Linked DNA regions of Homo sapiens. Each later gene encodes a partner of the first gene's protein in a complex. Each region holds a gene or a part of one and is shown in the gene's direction. Other genes may lie near its edges. The genes, in order: PAIP2 and PABPC1.

The links.
Region 2: the proteins of PAIP2 (region 1) and PABPC1 are in contact, whole or in part, in an NMR structure (PDB 1JGN), measured with the Homo sapiens proteins. Residues at the interface, in NP_001028284.1 of Homo sapiens: Val107, Ser109, Asn110, Leu111, Asn112, Asn114, Ala115, Lys116, Glu117, Phe118, Pro120, Gly121, Val122, Lys123, Tyr124, Gly125, Asn126; in NP_001425211.1 of Homo sapiens: Gln558, Lys559, Gln560, Met561, Gly563, Glu564, Lys580, Thr582, Gly583, Met584, Leu585, Leu586, Glu587, Ile588, Asp589, Asn590, Lys606, Glu609, Ala610, Val613, His617.

The regions. Positions count from the first base shown.
Region 1 is NC_000005.10:139,335,995-139,346,120, forward strand, and holds the start of PAIP2 (polyadenylate-binding protein-interacting protein 2), read left to right. Parts: upstream 1-5,859; 5' UTR 5,860-5,986; exon of another isoform or gene 5,987-7,412; intron 7,413-10,126. UniProt on the Homo sapiens protein: Acts as a repressor in the regulation of translation initiation of poly(A)-containing mRNAs. Its inhibitory activity on translation is mediated via its action on PABPC1.
Region 2 is NC_000008.11:100,703,485-100,713,505, reverse strand, and holds part of PABPC1 (polyadenylate-binding protein 1), read left to right. Parts: intron 1-324; coding exon 325-419; intron 420-716; coding exon 717-854; intron 855-1,048; coding exon 1,049-1,144; intron 1,145-3,774; coding exon 3,775-4,047; intron 4,048-4,282; coding exon 4,283-4,373; intron 4,374-6,508; coding exon 6,509-6,619; intron 6,620-6,700; coding exon 6,701-6,855; intron 6,856-7,832; coding exon 7,833-7,917; intron 7,918-8,449; coding exon 8,450-8,580; intron 8,581-9,115; coding exon 9,116-9,208; 3' UTR 9,209-9,209; exon of another isoform or gene 9,210-10,021. UniProt on the Homo sapiens protein: Binds the poly(A) tail of mRNA, including that of its own transcript, and regulates processes of mRNA metabolism such as pre-mRNA splicing and mRNA stability.

The DNA.
Region 1 (10,126 bases):
ACCTACCTCCACCTCTCAAGTAGCTAGGGCTACAGCCATGCACTGCCATGCCCAGCTAATTTTTGTAGGGGGTGTGTGTGTGTCTGTGTGTAGAAGATGCGGTCTTGCTATGTTGCTCAGGCTGGTCTCAAATCCATGGGCTCAAGAGATGCCCCTACCTTGGCCTCCCAATGCGCTGGGATTATAGGCATAAGTCATCATGCCTGGCACTTTTTACTTTTTTTCCTACACTTGCATAAACCCTAGTTTGTTGGTGGTGGTTTTGTTTTTAGTTTGTTTTTGAGAGGGGTTCTCGCTCTGACACCCAGGCTGGGGTGCAATGCCGTGATAGCCCACTGCAACCTCCGCCTCCCAGTTTTGAGTGACTCTCCTGCCTCAGCCTCCCCAGTAGCTGTGACTACAGGTGTGCAACCACACCTGGCTAATTTTTATTTTTGTACTTTTAGAAGAGACAGGGGTCTCATCATGTTGGCCAGGCTGGTCTCAAACTGACAAGTGATTCGCCCACCTCGGCCTCCCAAAGTGCTAGGATTACAGGCGCGAGCCAGTGTACCTGGCCCACCCCCACCTTTTTTTTTAGAGACAGCGTCACCGCCTTACCAGGTTGGGGTGCAGTGGCACACTAGTAGCTCATGGCAGCCTTGAACTCCTGGGCTCAAGCAAGCCTCCTGCCTCAGCCTACGAGTAACTGGGACTTATAAGAATGTGCCACCACACTTAGCTATTTTTTTACATTCTTTCTGAACACAGAGTTTTGGTAAGTTTCCCAGGCTGGTTTTGAACTCCTGGCCTCAAGCATTCCTTCTGCCTCGGCCTCCCAAAGTGCTGGGATTATAGGTGTGAGCCACAGAACCCAGCCTATGCCCTATTTGAATAGGGAAACCTGCTTTATGGTGTGATAGCCTGTGGAAAGGGACTGCAGTTTAAGTGATGATTGGTGTGAAGGATAGTGAGACTTTCATGATAACTCCTAGTTCATTTTCCTGATTTTGGCTGCTTCTGCTGAAACTCCAAGTGTATCTCTGGCCCATGTTATTTTAAAAGGCAAGCTTCTAGAGAGGTGAACATGGGGAGAACATGGAAACAACAACAAAAAAAGCTGAGCTGCTCCTGGCTAACATGGTGAAACCCCGTCTCTACTAAAAATACAAAAAAATTAGACGGGCGTAAAAAAAAGACTCCGTCTCAAAAAAAAAAAAAAAAAGGCTGAGCTGCACAAAGTCAGCAGGGAACGGTTTTCCCAGCTGGAAAAGAGGAATTGCTTCTGCCTTTCCAGTTATTCAGCACGTCTGTAGGCACACATGATGATTCTGCAAAAACGTTTACCTATTCTACACCTACACATTTTCCAAATCCTGCTCATGCTGCATATTCAAACTACACAAGTTTGGCTCTTTTTTTTTTTTTTTTTTTTTTTTTTTTGAGACGGAGTCTTTCTCTGTCGCCCAGGTTGGAGTGCAGTGGCGCGATCTCGGCTCACTGCAAGCTCCGCCTCCCGGGTTCACGCCATTCTCCTGCCTCAGCCTCCCGAGTATCTGGGACTACAGGCGCCCGCCACCACGCCCGGCTAATTTTTTGTATTTTTAGTAGAAACTGGGTTTCACTGTATTAGCCAGGATGGTCTCGATCTTCTGACCTCGTGATCCACCCACCTCGGCCTCCCAAAGTGCTGGGATTACAGGCATGAGCCACCGCGCCCACCCGAAGAATATTTTACTTTTTTTTTTTTTTTTGAGACGGAGTCTTGCTCTGTCACCCAGGCTGGAGTGCAGTGGCGAGATCTCAGCTCACTGCAACCTCTGCCTCCTAGATTCAAGCGATTCTCCTGCCTCAGCCTCCTGAGTAGCTAAGGTAACAGGTGCATGCCACCACACCTGGCTAATTTTTTGTATTTTTAGTAGAAACTGGGTTTCACTGTATTAGCCAGGATGGTCTCAATCTCTTGACCTCGTGATCCACCTGCCTCGGCCTCCCAAAGTGCTGAGATTACAAGCGTGAGCCACCGCGCCTGGCCAAGTTTGGCTCTTTAAGGCCAGGTGAGTTTTAAACTTCACTAAACAACTTTTTTAGGAAAACCCACCACTTACTGTCTGTGTATCCTTAGTGCCTAGATCAGTGCAGGCATAAGTAGGCATTTTAAAAGTTGAATAATACTTGATCCCCTCACCTTCTCATTCAGAGCAGGGACCTTTGCTTACCCTGCAGTGTTAGGCCCTTACTCAACCCTACATACCTACGCTAGCTAGCTACATTCTCTGCCTACCTTGATACAAAGGAGCATAGGAACCATTACTGAAGCACTATAGGAACCTATGTAAGAGTTCATTTTGGGGGGGTGTGTTTTCTTGTTTATAAATGCAATATGCAATTCAAGCTTTCCTAGAGAATTTAGACAATATTTTTAAAATTCAGAAAATATTGACTCCTTTGAAATCTGACCACCAGGAAGGCCGGGCACGGTGGCTCACGCATGTAATCCCAGCACCTTGGGGGGCCGAGGCAGGCGGATCACGAGGTCAGGAGTTCAAGCCTTGCCAACATGGTGAAACCCCGTCTCTACTAAAAATACAAAAATTAGCTGGGCATGGTGGTGCGCGCCTGCAGTCTCAGCTACTTGGGAGGCTGAGGCAGGAGAATCACTTGAACTGGGACCTGGGAAGCAGAGATTGCAGTGAGCCGAGATCGTGCCACTGCACTCCAGCCTGGCCTACAGAGCGAGACTCCATCTCAAAAAAAAAAAAAAAAAAAAAAAAAAAAAAAGAAATCTGACCACCCAGAAATACTGCTATTAACATTTTGATGACCATTCTATCAGATACTTGGCATTTATACCTACTCGTGCCTGTTTACATATAAAATTTTGAAAGATTTTACAAACATGCTGTTTTGCAACCTGCTCTTTTAAAAAGCATTGATATATTCTATATCAATGAATATACATATTTTAAATAACTATTTTAATGCATCATTATTCATTTAACCAATTTCCTGTTGATAGGCATTTTGATCTTTTGGGTTTTATAACCAGGCTATAAATATTCTTACATGTCTCTCTTTACATCTGTCCATTTGGGTAGATTCCTATATTTGGAATGTTTGGGTAAGAAGGTACATACTTTTTACATTATTGATGAGAAATGAGGGGTCTGTAGGAAGGTGGTAATTTACAGTGGGGGCCTACTCATAGCCATCCTGGGCCTTCTGATTTCTACTTCAACCTCCATCTTAAGATGGTTACTATGTGAACCAGATAGGTAAATTTTTGCAGTGTTTTAAAACTGGATCTCTCTGTTGGTCCCATTGCAGTGTCTCTCCTTACCATTAGCAAACTTGTTAGCCTTCATTATTTTGTTTTCCATGTATAGATCATCACCATCACTATCCAAGTATAATATTGCTACATTGAAGTTTATTTTGCATGTGAGCAGAGTGTCCTTATGTCTAGAGAATGCCAAGGAAATACTGGGCCCCTGACGCTTAGCCACTGTGGTGAACTCTCAGTGCGATCTGGAAATTGAGATCTTAACCCCTTTGTGTGGGAAAAACAGCATTGGCCTTTGAGTGTTTCACATGATTTATCAAATATTTTTTATTACCATTATAACCAGTTAAGTGGCTTGTGTTACTAAATAACAAATTCAATTATCTCATGTTTACCTTTTTGTTTATTTGTTTGTTTTAAGACAGAGTCTCACTCTGTCACCCAGGCTGGAATGCAATGGCATGCTCTGGGCTCACCGCAACCTCCTCCTCCCGGGTTCAAGCGATTCTCCTGCCTCAGCCTCGCGGGTAGCTGAGACTACAGGCATGTGCCACCACATCCGGCTAATTTTTGTATTTTTATTAGAGATAGGGTTTCACCATGTTGGCCAGGCTGGTCTCAAACTCCTGACCTCATGATCTGCCCGCCTCAGCCTCCCAAAGTGCTGGGATTACAGGTGTGAGCCACCGCACCTGGCCTCATGCTTACCTTTTAAGAGAGTCTGGGTTAGGCCAGGCCCTGTGGCTCACGGCTGTAATCCCAGCACCTTGGGAAGCTGAAGCGGGCAGATCATTTGAGCCCAGGAGTTCAAGACCAGCCTGGGCAATATGGCAAAACCTCATTTCTACAAAAAATTCAAAAATTAGCCAGGCATGGTGGTACACACCTGTGGTCTCAGCTACTTTGCAAGCTGAGGTTTGAGGATTGCTTGAGCCAGGGAGGTTGCGGCTGTAGTGAACCGTGATCATGCCACTGCACTCCAGCCTGGGTGATGGAAGACTGTGTCTTAAAAAGAGAGTCTGAGTCATCTCAGACTATATAAATACCTATTTTGTTATGTTCAGACTTCCTTCAGCCTCAGATTGATAGCTTATCTTCACAGTTTAGAATATAGATCTGTAAGTGCTGCCAAGGTGGTTGACCCAGGAGCTAGGGCAGAACCATCTGCATTCATTTCTTTGGGGCTTTGGACTGGCCCAGAAGAGTATTCAGTGAATGAAATAGCTCTGAAGAGGAACAACCCGGTTTCTAAATTCAAGCCTTCCCATGGAGGGAATTTTTTGTCTTAGTAAATACTACAAGCATATAGTTTTTAAAAGATTCAAATTTTTCAGGAGAAAAGGATAGTTATTTGCACCCATTTCCTAGTCGGTCATTTGCCCTCTCCAAAGGGAAGAAATTAGTTTGTGTCCCTTTTTCAAAGATAGTATCTACACATTTGAACATCCAGATTTGTAAAACACATACTCTCGGCCGGGTGCGGTGGCTCACACCTGTAATCCTAGCACTTTGAGAGGCGGAGGCGGGTGGATCACGAGGTCAGGAGATCGAGACCATCCTGGCCAACACGGTGAAACCCCTATCTCTACTAAAAGTACAAAAATTGGCCGGGTGTGCTGGCGTGCGCCTGTAGTCCCAGCTACTTGGGAGGCTGTGGCAGGAGAATCTCTTGAACCCGGGAGGCGGAGGTTGCAGTGAGCCGAGATGGCGCCACTGCACTCCAGCCTGGGCAAGAGAGCCAGACTCCGCCTCAAAAAAACAAAACAAAACAAAAAAACAAAAACATACTCTCTTCTTTACATTGCTTAGTGTCACTAGAAATATATCTTGGGGCTTGTCAACGATGACAGGAAGGAAGCATGGGTAAGAATAACTATGGGGCCAGTGCACCCAGGATCACGGACTACAAAATTCTTGAACCCGGAGGTCACACTTTTCTATCCTGTGTGGACAGGGCATTTCCTCCTTTAGCCACAAAGAAGTTGCACATGTATTTGTATTTTGCGTTTGCATCCAGCTTCAAAAAGTGTGTTTTTGTGCCTGCACATGTCTGAGTGCGGATGTTTGCATATCATTTAGTACGCCTCTGTGATTTCCCTTAGTTTATTATTTTTCTGTGTCAGGATCTTGACGTGACTCGGTGCATGTCGCTGTTTGTGTGACATTGTGTATCATTCTTGGGGTGTGTATGGGTATGTGTGTGCTATGTCATTACCTAAATATTACGTTTTTGGGGGGGTGTGTGATGTCTGTGAAAGTCCACGCCTGTGTATCTTGTCAGGGTGCTCTTCAGTCCCCAGCTGCCTCACTCATTGCATATCATCATTCTCGGAAGATGGGCGGGTGTGGGAACAGTGGTACGCCCCCATTCCTGCCTTCCAGAGAGAACGTGCGACAGCGTTCCTGCTACACCCGGCAGCCGGCCGTAGGGGCGCGCTGGAAAGGCTGCTGCGCGTGCACACGTGTGCAGCCTTGGAGACAGACTTCGGGGTCGCGCGTTCTCGCGCGCGCTCTCTAGTGGCTTCGGAGGGCAGAGCTGACAGAACAAGAGGGCGGGGTTGGCGGCGACGGAAGTGAAGTCACTTCCGGGCTGGGGTGTTTGTTTGGACTGGAGAAGGGAGGCGGCGGGCGAAGCGCACGTCGAGCGGGGGAGCGGCGCTGCCTGTGGAGATCCGCGGAGGCCGACAGGATTCGTTGGCTGCCGTCCCCGCTGCTGTGCATTGGGTGAGGGGTCCTCTCGGGCAGAGTGGCGACAGGGGTGCGGAGGTCGAGGGACAGCAAGTCGGCGACGGCAGAGGGGCCTAAAGGGTTCCCTGGGTGGTTGGCCACCGAGTCCATTGCGGCCTCCGTTGTTCATTGCCTCTTTCCACCAAGTCTGAGGGATGAGCTTGGGCCGACTTCGTCTCTGTCTTCTCCGAGACATGGCCGTCGCTTTTTTTTCATTGTCATTATTAATGATTTGGATCTCGCAGCTCTCTATCCGGGTCCTCAGTGGCGCGAGGGTTGCCGGGATAGCACTTTCTCCTGTTCCTCATTCTCCCGGTCCTTTATCCCTCCGCCGGGTACCCTTTCCCCTGCCCCCCTCCCACCGCCTCGGCAACAAAGCTTATTGTTTCTACCCACTTTACGCCTGCGCGTCGCCACGCGCAGCCCCTACTTGCTGCGCGTGCGCGCCTCAGCCGAGGCTGGGGTTTGGGGAGAGAGGGGCGGAGGGACTGGCGGGCTCTTGGCGTCTTGGGGGAACGCTGCAACCGTCGACGGGCCTGATCAGAAGATCGTCTTTCTCCCGTTTCTTCGCCATCGCTACCCCTTATTTTTGGTTGTATTGCAGCTCATGCCCTGGAAAAAAGAACCTTTGGGGTACTGGGAACCCTTACCCTAGGAGGGCGTTGAGTTAGATGAACTTTAAGGTCCTCTTACCTTTTAATAATTTTCTGTGCTTACTCTCCTCCTTCCCCACCATCGCCACCAGAAATAAATAAGGCTTGTGGTGAACTTAGGTCTTCAAAACATTTGTTGCAGCAGCCAGCAGTGATATTTTTTAGGGACTCCTAAAAGGGGTCTTACCTGCTTCCTTTTGTTTCTTTTTTCCCTGATTTGGCACCCGTATCAACTCATAAAAACCCCAAACTCTAGAAAGAATTTGGCTTCCAATTTGCCTTGGAAGGTGTAGCAGCTGACAGCCTTTGACGTTTATTTCAACGGAAAGTAGATGTTCATGTTGGGTGTGCTGGCTAATGTTGAAACGTGGTGGCATTGTTTTTTCACAGATTTCATTAGCACAGTTAGATCAGGTGTTGGTTTATATTTTCATTAAGTCGCTTTTGAAATTTCTTCTGGCGTAGGTTGTGTTTGCAATAAGTAAAAGTTCTCTACAATAATTTTTAATGAGACTCCACTATTTGCTTTTGTGATTCTGTTTCCAGTTAGTGAAAGACAGGATATTTGGGGAAAATTAGTCTGTTTATACTACTTGTCAGTTGTGAACTTGAATAAAACTTTTTCACACACACACAAAATCACAGGATAGGTAACTTGACAAGAACTATAGAACCCACTTGTGTTTCTTTAAGGGATGGAGGTTAGGGAATGGAGATTTCCTCTAATGATTCAAGGCTGTGCACGTTGCTCCTTAGGAACTCAAATTGAGGTAGGTAATTTCACCCTCTTTTGGTCAGAATGAGTTTATAGCAGGCTTTTCCTTAAATAAGCACTCTGCACTTTATTCAGGTTTATCACTTTATGACTCTAGAGTGTGATGCTCCAGTTTTAGTGAAAAACTTGAACACTTAGCACAGCAATTTGGTTGATACTGTGGGAGATTAAAGAATGTGGAAGGCAAGACCTCTGCCCCCTTGTAATCTAATAACCTTTTGTGCTTTTAAAACATTTTCTTGTAATTTACATCCTATTGTCATTCATTATCATGAAACGTGAAATGGGCAGAGCAAGTTTTTTTTTTTTTTTTTTTTTGAGATGGAGTCTCACTCTGTCGCCAGGCTGGAGTGCTGGAGTGCAGTGGCGCAATTGGCTCACTGCAACCTCCGCCTCCCCGGGTTCAAGCGATTCTCCTGCCTCCGCCTCCCTAGTAGCTGGGACTACAGGCGCTTGCCACCACGCCGGCTAATTTTTTGTATTTTTAGTAGAGACAGGGTTTCACCGTGTTAGCCAGGATGGTCTCGATCTCCTGACTTTGTGATCCGCCCCCGTCGGCCTCCCAACAGAGCAAGTTTTATCTTGCCCATTTGGGAATTAAAGAAATAGAAGCCTGAAAGATTATTTTTATTTAGCAAATATTTATATAACAATAATGCCAGGCATTGTTCTCATTGCCTTTACAAATATTAACTAATTTGATCCACAACATAGCTAGAAGGTAGGCCCTACTGTAAAATGAAGATAACAAATGAGACGTGAAGTAACTTTCCCAATGTCACAGAGCTATGATAGTCGGAATTCAAATCCAGATAGTCCAGAGATTCTATGCTCTTAACCATTATGTGGTGCTGTGTGATTTAGTGACAGGTCTAGGGTACTTTAAGGTGGCTATGTAGCATAGCTGGGATTTGAACCTACGTCTTCTGACTGTGGTCTAAGATTAAAGTTGTCCAAGTCATTGCCTTTGTGATCTAGACCACCTGTTGCACAGGTGCATGAATAGTTTGCATTTGATATAGGCTAAGGTTCAGTTCCAAAAAACTCCCTTTTTTCTTAATTTTTTCATTGTTTAGAGTGGTGCTGTCCAATGATGTAGGTACTGTGTGTGGTTATGAGCACTTGAGATGTGGCTAGTGTAAATGAAGAACTAAATTTTAATTAAATAGATCTGTGTAGCCGATGGCCACCATATTGGATGGGCACACGTTTGGAGAATTTGAATAGCCTCTGCTTCTTATATCAGTTTGTATAAATTTGGGTGGCATTTCTAATGTACTTGAGCTTTTATCAGTTAGGATGACCCATTCTTGCTCTCACCTAATTACCCTTGTTACACTACAGTTGAGATTAGGGTAGACTTTGGGATTTTCTTGTGACATTGTTTCACCTCTGTAGATTTAAGATCTCTAATTTTTACCTTGTCCCTTGGTCTAGAGACCTTTAACTGCCCTAAATATTTAATCACCGAGATAGTTAATGCCAATTGTTATGTGCTAGGTTCTCTAACTAGGTACTATTATTAATTCCCATGCAACAGATGAGGAAACCGAGACTCAGGTTAAGTAACTTGCCATGGTCACACAGTTAGTAAAGCAGCCTGGTTCCAGAGCCCATGGGTTTTTGTTGTTGTTGTTGTTGTTGTTGTTTTTGAAACGGAGTCTTGCTCTGTTGCCCAGGCTGGAGTGCAGTGGCGCGATCTCGGCTCACTGCACGCTCCACCTCCAGGGTTCATGCCATTCTTCTGCCTCAGCCTCCTGAGTAGCTGCACCCGACACCACACCTGGCTACTTTTGTTTTTGTATTTTTAATAGAGACGGGGTTTCACCGTGTTAGCCAGGATGGTCTCGATCTCCTGACCTCGTGATCCAACGGCCTTGGCCTCCCAAAGTGCTGGGATTACAGGTGTGAGCCACCGCGCCCAGCCCAGAGCCCATGTTTTTTAATCGTTACCTTACTGTGCCAAATAGTAAAACAAAAAATTCGGTGCTTTTCACAGACTTCAGAGTGGAAAACAGACCAATTGAAAAATGTTGCGATCCTCTTTAACTGCCAAAGGAAGTATGCTTAAACGTATATATGCGTAAAATACGATTAAAAAATATGCAAATAAGGTAAGGATCACAGTGGTTCAAAACAGAGTCCAAGGGAATGAGAAAAGATGGTGCCTATGGAGGTAGATTAATGAAAGAAACAGAAGAGAACTATGCTTGAATTTTTTTTTTTTTTTTTTTGAAACGGAGTCTTGCTCTGTTGCCCAGGCCTGAGTGCAGTGGCATGATCTCATTTCACTGCAAGCTCCACCTCCCGGGTTCATGCCATTCTCTTGCCTCAGCCTCCTGAGTAGCTGGGACTACAGACGCTTGCCACCATGCCTGGCTAATTTTTTGTATTTTTAGGAGAGATGGGGTTTCACCGTGTTAGCCAGGATGGTCTCAATCTCCTGACCTTGTGATCCGCCCACCTCGGCCTCCCAAAGTGCTGGGATTACAGGCGTGAGCCACCGCACCAGGCCTATATTTGAATTTTAATGAGAATTCTTAAAAGATGAAACTAGTGGAGAAAGATTGTAAAACCTAAAAGATTTCTGTATTTTAAAATTCCATAGACAATATAAAAGGACACTGCTGGAAACCAATATGTCTAAGAGGCATTTCAGGAGGGGAAAAACAGCTGAAGACACAATAAAGCCCTAAGTTGATAAATTGA
Region 2 (10,021 bases), on another chromosome or scaffold:
TAGAAAAGGGAAAAAATCAAATTATTGGGTAAAAAATGCAACTCTTTTGTGCTAGAGCTGAGAATAAAACTTTTTACAGCCGTTTAAAGTGTACCTCCTTAAATGGAAGGAGGAATCCTTCAGGGGAGGGAAGGTGTTTACCTTCTTAATAATAAAAGGTCTTTCAATGGAAAAGTATACCTACCTGGGGCATAGAAGGCTGGGAGGGAGGAGTCAAGTTACGGAGCTTTGAAATTTTTTTCATGGCTTTGTATGTTGAAATTTGAAATGTATAACGTGAATGTTGTATGGAATATCTTTGATTTATGTAAAAAAATTTTTTAGGGCCTGCCTTAAGTGTGAAAGTAATGACTGATGAAAGTGGAAAATCCAAAGGATTTGGATTTGTAAGCTTTGAAAGGCATGAAGATGCACAGAAAGTAAGTGGTCTGTATTCAGCAGGAAGAAGGGGGTACAAAGTTGAGTTGCTCTTGTGTTGAAGTCTATGTGCATACTAATAGCTATTTGACATGTTCTTATATTTTCAGTTATTTGCATTTTATGCATTAGGTTTGAGAGTATAAATTGGTAACCTATATTGTCCCAAAACCTTGAGATTTTGGGATGGGTTTGTCTTTAGCTTTTGTGACTTAACAAATTTGTCTTAACTGTTAAGGAAATGAACTGTAAGTTGAAAGTTTTGTGATTTTTTTTTTTTCTTTTTTTTTGGGGGGAAGGCTGTGGATGAGATGAACGGAAAGGAGCTCAATGGAAAACAAATTTATGTTGGTCGAGCTCAGAAAAAGGTGGAACGGCAGACGGAACTTAAGCGCAAATTTGAACAGATGAAACAAGATAGGATCACCAGATACCAGGTTCATTTTTAATTGAACAACCAAAATAAGACAGGGATGAGGAAACCTATTTTACGTTGATTTCAGTTACTTCCAGGTAGCTGGAGGGTTTGAGAGGGGAATAGGAGAAGAAATATGGGGTAAAATAATAGACCCGATGTACTTAGGTACCACCATGGTTTTCTTTTTCTATAGTTTTCTTTTCTTCTTTTTAGGGTGTTAATCTTTATGTGAAAAATCTTGATGATGGTATTGATGATGAACGTCTCCGGAAAGAGTTTTCTCCATTTGGTACAATCACTAGTGCAAAGGTAAGAAAACATATGGTTCATTTATTTGAGGTCTAGTAAAAATTCATACATGTAGATATATGTATATAAATTTTGTATTATTATAGCCACTAGAGAGGTGTTTGCTTCGTTACTTCTAAAACTTAAATTCACATTTGAACTGGTTGTCATAGCCTAATGGTTAACTTAAAAATGGCAAGCACTGAACTCTTTGCTAAGGAAGGCTGATATCCTCACATGATATGCACTATTCCAACAACTAGTCATTTTGCTAAAGCAAGCAATTTATTAGGGACTTATAATTGTTACTATAGTTCTGATCTGTTTATTCATTTCTACAATTCATTCTGGGTAGTCAAGCCCCAGTTCCCTCCCCTGCCCCCTAGCAGTAAGAATAGAGATCATATTTTCTTTTATTTGAAATCAGAGATTAAGAAACAAAGCAGTAGTATTCTAGTACAAATTCTGAAATCTTGATTTAAGAAGTTCTCTTCTAGATGTTTTTGTCTAGCATCCGTGGGCCAAGAGTCCCCCTATATGCAAGGTTTTGTGCATACATAATTTTGCTGGGGTTGGGGAAGAGTGCATAGAAAAAAATTACAACTCAACTGAACTGGAATGACGCTGTGGCTGATCTTTCTAGTCAGCTTTTCCTGGCAAGTCCGAGGAAGCTTCTGTGAGAGTGAGGAAATGTTAGGGGAAAGGTGGTTGAATACAAGTAAGATGGAAGTGCCATGGTTGTCTTGTGTTTCAGATTATGCTTTTTATGTAAGAGTATTGGAGTACGATAGAATTTATTCCTGAATGTTTTTGTCTTCAGTGTGTTCCCTGGATATTGTTTAAATTGAGTGTTGTGCATCAGCATATTTTGAATGTATGAAGCATGCATGTTTTTCTGTTTCTTGAGACAGGATCTCATTATGTTGCCCAGGTTGGAGTGCAGGGGCATGCCACAATCACAGCTCACTGCAGCCTCAGCCTTTCCTGGGCTTAAGCCAAGCTTGTCCAACCCGCTGCTTGCAGGCCACATGCGGCCCAAGAATGCTTTTAATGCAGTGCAACACAAATTCTTAAACTTATGAGGTGTTTTTTTTTTGTCTTTTTTAAAGACGAGTCTCACTCTCGCCTGGGCTGGAGTGCGGTGGTGCAATCTCAGCTCACTGCAGCCTCCGCCTCCCGGGTTCAAGCGATTCTCCTGCCTCAGCCTCCTGGGTAGCTGGGATTACAGGCATGTGCCACTACGCCCAGCTAATTTTTGGTATTTTTAGTAGAGATGGGGTTTCACCATGTTGGCCAAGCTGGTCTTCCAACTCCTGACCTCAGGTGACCTCCTAAAGTGTTGGGATTACAGGCGTGAGCCACCGTGCCTGGCTGGTTGTCTGTCTTTTTATTGATTAAGGGAACATTTGTTTTATTTTTTTGAGATGGAGTGAAGTGGTGTGATCTCAGTTCACTGCAACTTCCACCCCCTGGGTTCAAGCAGTTTTCCTGTCTCAGCTTCCCGAGTAGCTGGGATTATATGCACCTGCCACCATGCCCGGCTAATTTTTGTATTTTTAGTAAAGACGGGGTTTCGCCACGTTGGCCAGGCTGGTCTCGAACTCCTGACTTCAGGTGATCCACCCGCCTTGGCCTCCCAAAGTGCTAGGATTACAGGCGTGAGCCACCGCGCCCGGCCAAACATTTGTTTTATATTGGAAATATTTTCTTCGAATTTTCCACTTTATAGACCTCACTTTGTGTGTGTGTCATCTTAGAAAGGTTTTCTCTCTATTTCTACATTCTATGTTCAGATTCAGAATCTACCTGGCATTTAAGATTTTTCAATGTAATGTGAATTAAGAGTTCTACATTTTTTCATTTGTCCCAGTGTGTCATGTATTGAGTAGCCCAAAGTCCTTTTTCCCCAGTACTTTAAAATGTTAACTTTAGCACAGTGAATTCCCATAATTGCTTGGGTATATTTCTGGCCTCTGTTTTATTACCGTTTGTTCCTATGCCACTCGCATACTGTTAATGTAGTTTTATAGCATGCTTATATATATTGCTGGCCTAGCGAGTGGTTCTTTGCAAGTCTTCATTGCTCATTTAAAAGGTCTTTGCAATCAATTTTAGAAGAACCTTCCTCTTGAGTGTTCTTTATACCGTAATATTTATGGATCCTCTGCTCTTGAATGTAAAAACTTTTATTTTAAGATGTGGGTATTGTAAGATTCAACTACTTTTTTCTCAAAGGCATAGTGAAGCATCTTGTCAGCTTGAATTGTTAGAATAGTCAAAATTTAATTGGGAAATGCTTCCAGTGGTGCCCAAAAGTCAATTTAGTAGGCCTGGGATGTATTTATTTAGATAATTAAATTTCAATATTGAAAATCCAATCAAATTCAGTATCTAAAATCTTTAAAAGTTTCTGTGCAGCCTTCACTTCTGTCAGTTCTCTGACCTGGCTAGGGTAATGCATATGTGTAGTTTGCCCTTAATAATTGGGTATTAAGGAAAAATTGTGAACTCAATGGGTAAATACAAGATGATTAAGCATTAACAGGGTTTAGTTATTTGATTCAGTGATTTATAATTGTCTAAATTGTAACGCTCTTTTTTTGCTCCTCATTCTACCATTACGTTAACTTTTTTTTTCTTTTTTTTAATAGGTTATGATGGAGGGTGGTCGCAGCAAAGGGTTTGGTTTTGTATGTTTCTCCTCCCCAGAAGAAGCCACTAAAGCAGTTACAGAAATGAACGGTAGAATTGTGGCCACAAAGCCATTGTATGTAGCTTTAGCTCAGCGCAAAGAAGAGCGCCAGGCTCACCTCACTAACCAGTATATGCAGAGAATGGCAAGTGTACGAGCTGTTCCCAACCCTGTAATCAACCCCTACCAGCCAGCACCTCCTTCAGGTTACTTCATGGCAGCTATCCCACAGGTAGGTTTTAGAAGGCAACCAGAACCATGAAGGTTTTCGTATTTGGTCATTTCTAGTGTTTTTTGTGCCCCTCGCCCCGCAAATGTGAAACATTAAGAAAGGGGAATTATGATTGAGTAGGAAAAAATGCTTGAGTGTGAAGTCCTGGTAAATGTTTTGAAAAAGTACATATAATTTATTGCATTATTTGCTTTTTTCTTCAACTGATAAACTCATGTGCTTTTTTTCCCTGCAGACTCAGAACCGTGCTGCATACTATCCTCCTAGCCAAATTGCTCAACTAAGACCAAGTCCTCGCTGGACTGCTCAGGGTGCCAGACCTCATCGTAAGTCTTTTTTCTTTTAATTAAGGTTGGGGATTGAGTTAAAAATAACACATTGGGTAAATCAGCTCTTCTATGTCAATGTTAGGTTAACTATTGCATTTCACATAATTTGTGGTTATGGATGTTCATTTTTATAGCATTTAAAAGCAGTGCTAAGATAGTAATGTCTACAGTGGTTTGATTTCCCTTTATAAAAGTTTTGGGAATAGGTACAGCTCTTCATTTTTTATTTATTTATTTATTTATTTATTTTCGAGACAGAGTCTCGCTCTGTTGCCCCAGGCTCGAGTGCAGTGGCTCAGTTTCGGCTCACTGCAACCTCCACCTCCCAGGTTCAAGCGATTTCTCCCTGCCTCAGCCTCTGGAGTAGCTGGGATTACAGGTGCCCGCCACCACGCCCAGCTAACTTACGCATTATTAGTAGAGATGGGGTTTGACCACGTTGGCCAGGGTTGTCTTGAGCTCCTGATCTCAGGTCATCTGCCCACCTCAGCCTCCTAAAGTGTTGAGAGTACAGGCGTGAGCCATGGCACCCAGCCAATTTCATATTTTGTCAGGCCACAGTTTTAAAGGTCTCGTTCCATTTAATCATGTATGAGAATCAGAGTCGTGGTATTTTATGTCTTGTCCTGTGGAACAGTATGTTATATTCCAAGAGCACTTAGAGTTTATTTTTTTAGACAGAGTCTCACTCTTTCTTCTAGTCTGGAGTGCAGTGGCATGGTCTTGGCTTACTGCAGCTTTCACCTCCCGGGTTCAGGTGATCCTCCTGCCTCAGCCTCCCAAGTAGCTGGGACTACAGGCACACGCCACCACGCCCAGCTAATTTTTTAAATTTTTTGTAGAGACGGGATTTTGCCCTGTTGGCCAGGCTGGGAGCACTTAGAATTTTATCATGATTATGTTTCAGGTATATTTATAAGTGTGGGCGGCAAACCACCCAGGTGCCAAGGCAAGAGACCGAGGACACGAGCTGTTCCAATATAATAAAATATAAAATAAGAATAGTTATACCAGATATAGATCTTAGATATGATTATATATGAATATCATTAATCATTAGTTTGTAGCAATTACTCTTTATTCCAATATCATAATAATCCTCACTCTATAATCATAACCTAGGAAAAACCAGGCCATACAGAGATAGGAGCTGAGGGGACATAGTGAGAAGTGACCAGAAGACAAGAGTGCGAGCCTTCTGTTATGCCCAGACAGGGCCACCAAAGGGCTCCTTGGTCTAGTGGTAACGCCAGCGTCTGGGAAGACGCCCGTTGCCAGGCGGACCGAGGTCTAGCAGTAGCGTAAGTGTCAAAGGAAAACACCCACTATTTAGCAGACCGGGAAAGGGAGTCTGCTTTTCCCCTGGGGAGTTTAGAGAAGACTGCTCCTCCACCTCTTGTGGAGGGCCTGACATCAGTCAGGCTTGCCTGCAATTATCCAGAGGCCTAACCGTCTCCCTATGGTGCTGTGCTTCAGTGGTCACGCTCCTAGTCTGCCTTCATGTTCCATCCTGTACACCTGGCTCTGCCTTCTAGATAGCAGTAGTAAATTAGTGAAAGTACTAAAAGTCTCTAATATGCAGAAACAATGGCGTAAGCTGTCTTTCTCTCTGTCTCCTCTCCCTCTCTGCCTCGGCTGCCAGGCGGGGAAGGGCCCCCTCTCCAGTGGACACGTAACCCACGTGACCTTACCTATCATTGGAGATGACTCACACTCTTTACCCTGCCCCTTGTGTTTTGTTTCCAATAAATAACAGTGCAGCCAGACATTCAGGGCCACTACTGGTCTCCGCGTCTTGGTGGTAGTGGTCCCCCGTGCCCAGCTGTCTTTTTTTTTTAAATCTCTGTGTCTCGTGTCTTTATTTCTGCACTCTCTCGTCGCTGCATACAGGGAGAAGCCCACCGACCCTGTGGGGCTGGTCGCTACATATAAGTACTCGTCCTTGTATGAATTAATGTTTTTACTTATTGATGCTCTGAGTCTGGGAAAATGGCAAGTGTTAAGACTCAGCTTTAAAAAGTTTTGTCACTTTTTAGTCTTTTATGCAAACCTCAGATCGAAGAAGACAGCATAAACACTTTTCACTCAGTAAGTTTTCCCAGTTAATGTATATTCACATCTTTAAAATGCAGCATTCCAAAATATGCCCGGTGCTATCCGCCCAGCTGCTCCTAGACCACCATTTAGTACTATGAGACCAGCTTCTTCACAGGTTCCACGAGTCATGTCAACACAGCGTGTTGGTGAGTCTTAATCCTTCCTTTAAAAATTGATCACCAATTTGAAAGAGCAAGATAAAAATACAAAATGTTCTTATTTTTTAGCTAACACATCAACACAGACAATGGGTCCACGTCCTGCAGCTGCAGCCGCTGCAGCTACTCCTGCTGTCCGCACCGTTCCACAGTATAAATATGCTGCAGGAGTTCGCAATCCTCAGCAACATCTTAATGCACAGCCACAAGTTACAATGCAACAGGTATGGATTTAATGATTTCTTAATAAAAATCACATTTCTTGGGTGAAATCAAAGGTGTGAAGACAGCTGGGCACAGTGGCTCACACCTATAACCCCAGCACTTTGGGAGGTTGAGGCAGGCAGATTGCTTGAGACCAGGAGTTTGGGACCAGCCTGGGCAACATACAGGACCCTGTCTCCACAAAGAAAACTAGCTGGGTGTGGTGGCATAAGCCTGTAGTCCTAGCTGCTAGGAAGGCTGAGGCAGGAGGATTGCTCGAGCCCAGGAGTTTAAGGCTGCAGCAAGCTGTAATCCCTGCTGGGTGACAGCAAGACTCTGTCTCAAAAGAAAAAATGTGAAGACAGCTGCATGATAGATTCTTGAGAGCTTAGCCTATCTGGAACATTCTGCTAATATGATAGTATGTAAAATGTCTTACGCTTTTGGAATTGGACAAGCAGCGAGAAATTCACATCCTAAATCACCACGCCTGGTCTGAAACAACTATTACAAGTAGCTATGGGCCAGGCGTGGTGGCTCACACCTCTATGTAATCCCAGCACTTCAGGAGGCCAAGGCAGGTGGATCACTTGAGGTCAGGAGTTTGAGACCAGCCTGGTCAACAGGGTGAAACCCCAGCTCTAAAAATATAAAGATTAGCCAGGCTTGGTGGCACATGCCTGTAATCCCAGCTACTGGGGAGGCTGAGGCAGGAAAGTTGCTTGAATCCGGAGGCGGAGGTTGCAGCGAGCCAAGATTGTGCCGTTGCATTCCAGCCTGGGCGACAAAGTGAGACTCCATCTCAAAAAGAAAAAAAATGTATCTGTGATACATAGTATATAATAACTACTTTGGCTTCTTTCTAATTCGCTCACTCAACTTCTCCACCTCATGTTTCGATGGAAGTCTACCACTTCAGCAGATGTCCATTGATGACTATTTGTATTTGCCATCTTTTTCTGTGCTTTAAACTTAAGAGTTCTCATTTTCTGTCTAGCCTGCTGTTCATGTACAAGGTCAGGAACCTTTGACTGCTTCCATGTTGGCATCTGCCCCTCCTCAAGAGCAAAAGCAAATGTTGGGTGAGTACTTCTGTCCCACCTTGTCAGTTCAGAAAGACTAGAAAATATAGGAATCACTTAGGCACTAGGTCAATCAATTGACAGCTAGGGCAGTGGAATTGATCTGAATTGGCATGAATGATTATGATAGTACAGTTGGTCTGCCTAATTAAAACCACTGGAAAGCCAATAAGAAAATGTATTGTTAGTAATAAATAGGGTAGTAGGGCATTACTCACCATGGGCCCTCACTACATTTTTGAGAGAAGGAATTTGAAGCAAATGAGAAGAAAACTTGTGACTTTGCCTGAACACCGATTTAACAACCTAATGGTAACATTGCTTAATTGGCAAGCTGATAATATCAAGAGTTAATTGCCTTGTGGCAGATTTTATTCTGTCTTCCCATGAAGACATAATGAAATTGTGGATTATGGGTTATTATATACGTGAGACAGAAGTATGGTTCTTAAACCCCAGTTTAATGTGGTAATTCAATGCAGTTAAAAACTTTTTTTTATTGAAGGGAGTTTTTGAATGTTTCTGTTCCTAGGTGAACGGCTGTTTCCTCTTATTCAAGCCATGCACCCTACTCTTGCTGGTAAAATCACTGGCATGTTGTTGGAGATTGATAATTCAGAACTTCTTCATATGCTCGAGTCTCCAGAGTCACTCCGTTCTAAGGTGATTTAAATTTATTTACCAAGTTGCCTCTTACACAGTTATTACGTGGCTTTTTATGGGGACTTAATTGTACAGAACACTTACATCGTGTTATATATAAGCCATGTACAGTTGTAAAGTCTGCATAATAACCTGTGGCGCTATTTATCCCCATTTTATAGATAGGTAAACTGAAACAGGCTGAATAATTTGCCAAATGCTCACACAGCTCTTAAGTGGCAGAGCCTGGCTTCAAATCCCATCAGCTCCAACAGCCATACTCTCAACTGCTGCTGCTTTCTCTAGTGGAGAAAGAGAAATATTTTTCGAGTGTGGGGAGGACAAGGAAAGAGTAGTGCAGGGGAGCGATTCATAATTCTAGAATAGTGGTGTAATAGAACTCAAAATTGAATGGATATAGTTGTTTAGTGTAACAATTTATACTTTCATTTGAGGGAAGAAACTTATCTTTGTTGGGAATTGGTATGTTACCATTATGAAACTCTTTATTTCCATTCCTTTCCTGAACCAGTTTATCTGTTTTCCCCTTTTTTAGGTTGATGAAGCTGTAGCTGTACTACAAGCCCACCAAGCTAAAGAGGCTGCCCAGAAAGCAGTTAACAGTGCCACCGGTGTTCCAACTGTTTAAAGTGAGCTTTTCCCTCTGGTTTGTTGTTTTAAGCTTGTTTTCTTCATCTTTTATAAAGTTTGTTGAGCATATTTTGAAATGTACATAGCAAAAGATCATTTTACAGTTCATTTAAATGTATTGCTAATTTTTCAAGGAAAAGTGGAACTAACTATAGAGGAATTAAAGGAATTTTACCCGTTAACTGTTGGATTTTTAAAATCCCAGGACTTTCAGGTGGTGTTTTTTTTTTTTTTTTTTTTTGAGATGGAGTTTCGTTCTGTCGCCCAACCTGGAGTGCATTGACGCGATCTCGGCTCACTGCAACCTCCACCTCCCAGGTTCAAGCAATTCTCCTGCCTCGGCCTCCCGAGCAGCTGGGATTAACAGGCCCATGCCTGCCACCGTGCCCAGCTAATTTTTGTATTTTTACTAGACTTGGGGTTTTGCCATGTTGGCCAGGCTGGTCTGGAACTTCTGACCTCAAGTGATCCGCCCACCTCGGCCTCCCAAAGTCTTGAAATTACAGGCGTGAGCCACTGCGCCCTGCCAGATTTTGTATAGTAATATATATATAAAATGACCTGTCACAGGTTGGCTTTCATAGTTTTACCTTTCCTTTTTGGGTGGTGCCCTTGGGTCTCTACTACTGTCTTTCATCACTCCCAAGAAATTGAGTAGTGCAGCCAGGATCAGGACCAGGGATTGGCAAATGTTTTTTGTAAAGGGCCAGATAGGAAATATTTTGGGCTTTGAGGACTGTGTTATCTCTGAAATGATCTTGTTCCAGTGTTACCATGTCAAGACAACCATAGATAGTATGTATACAAATGA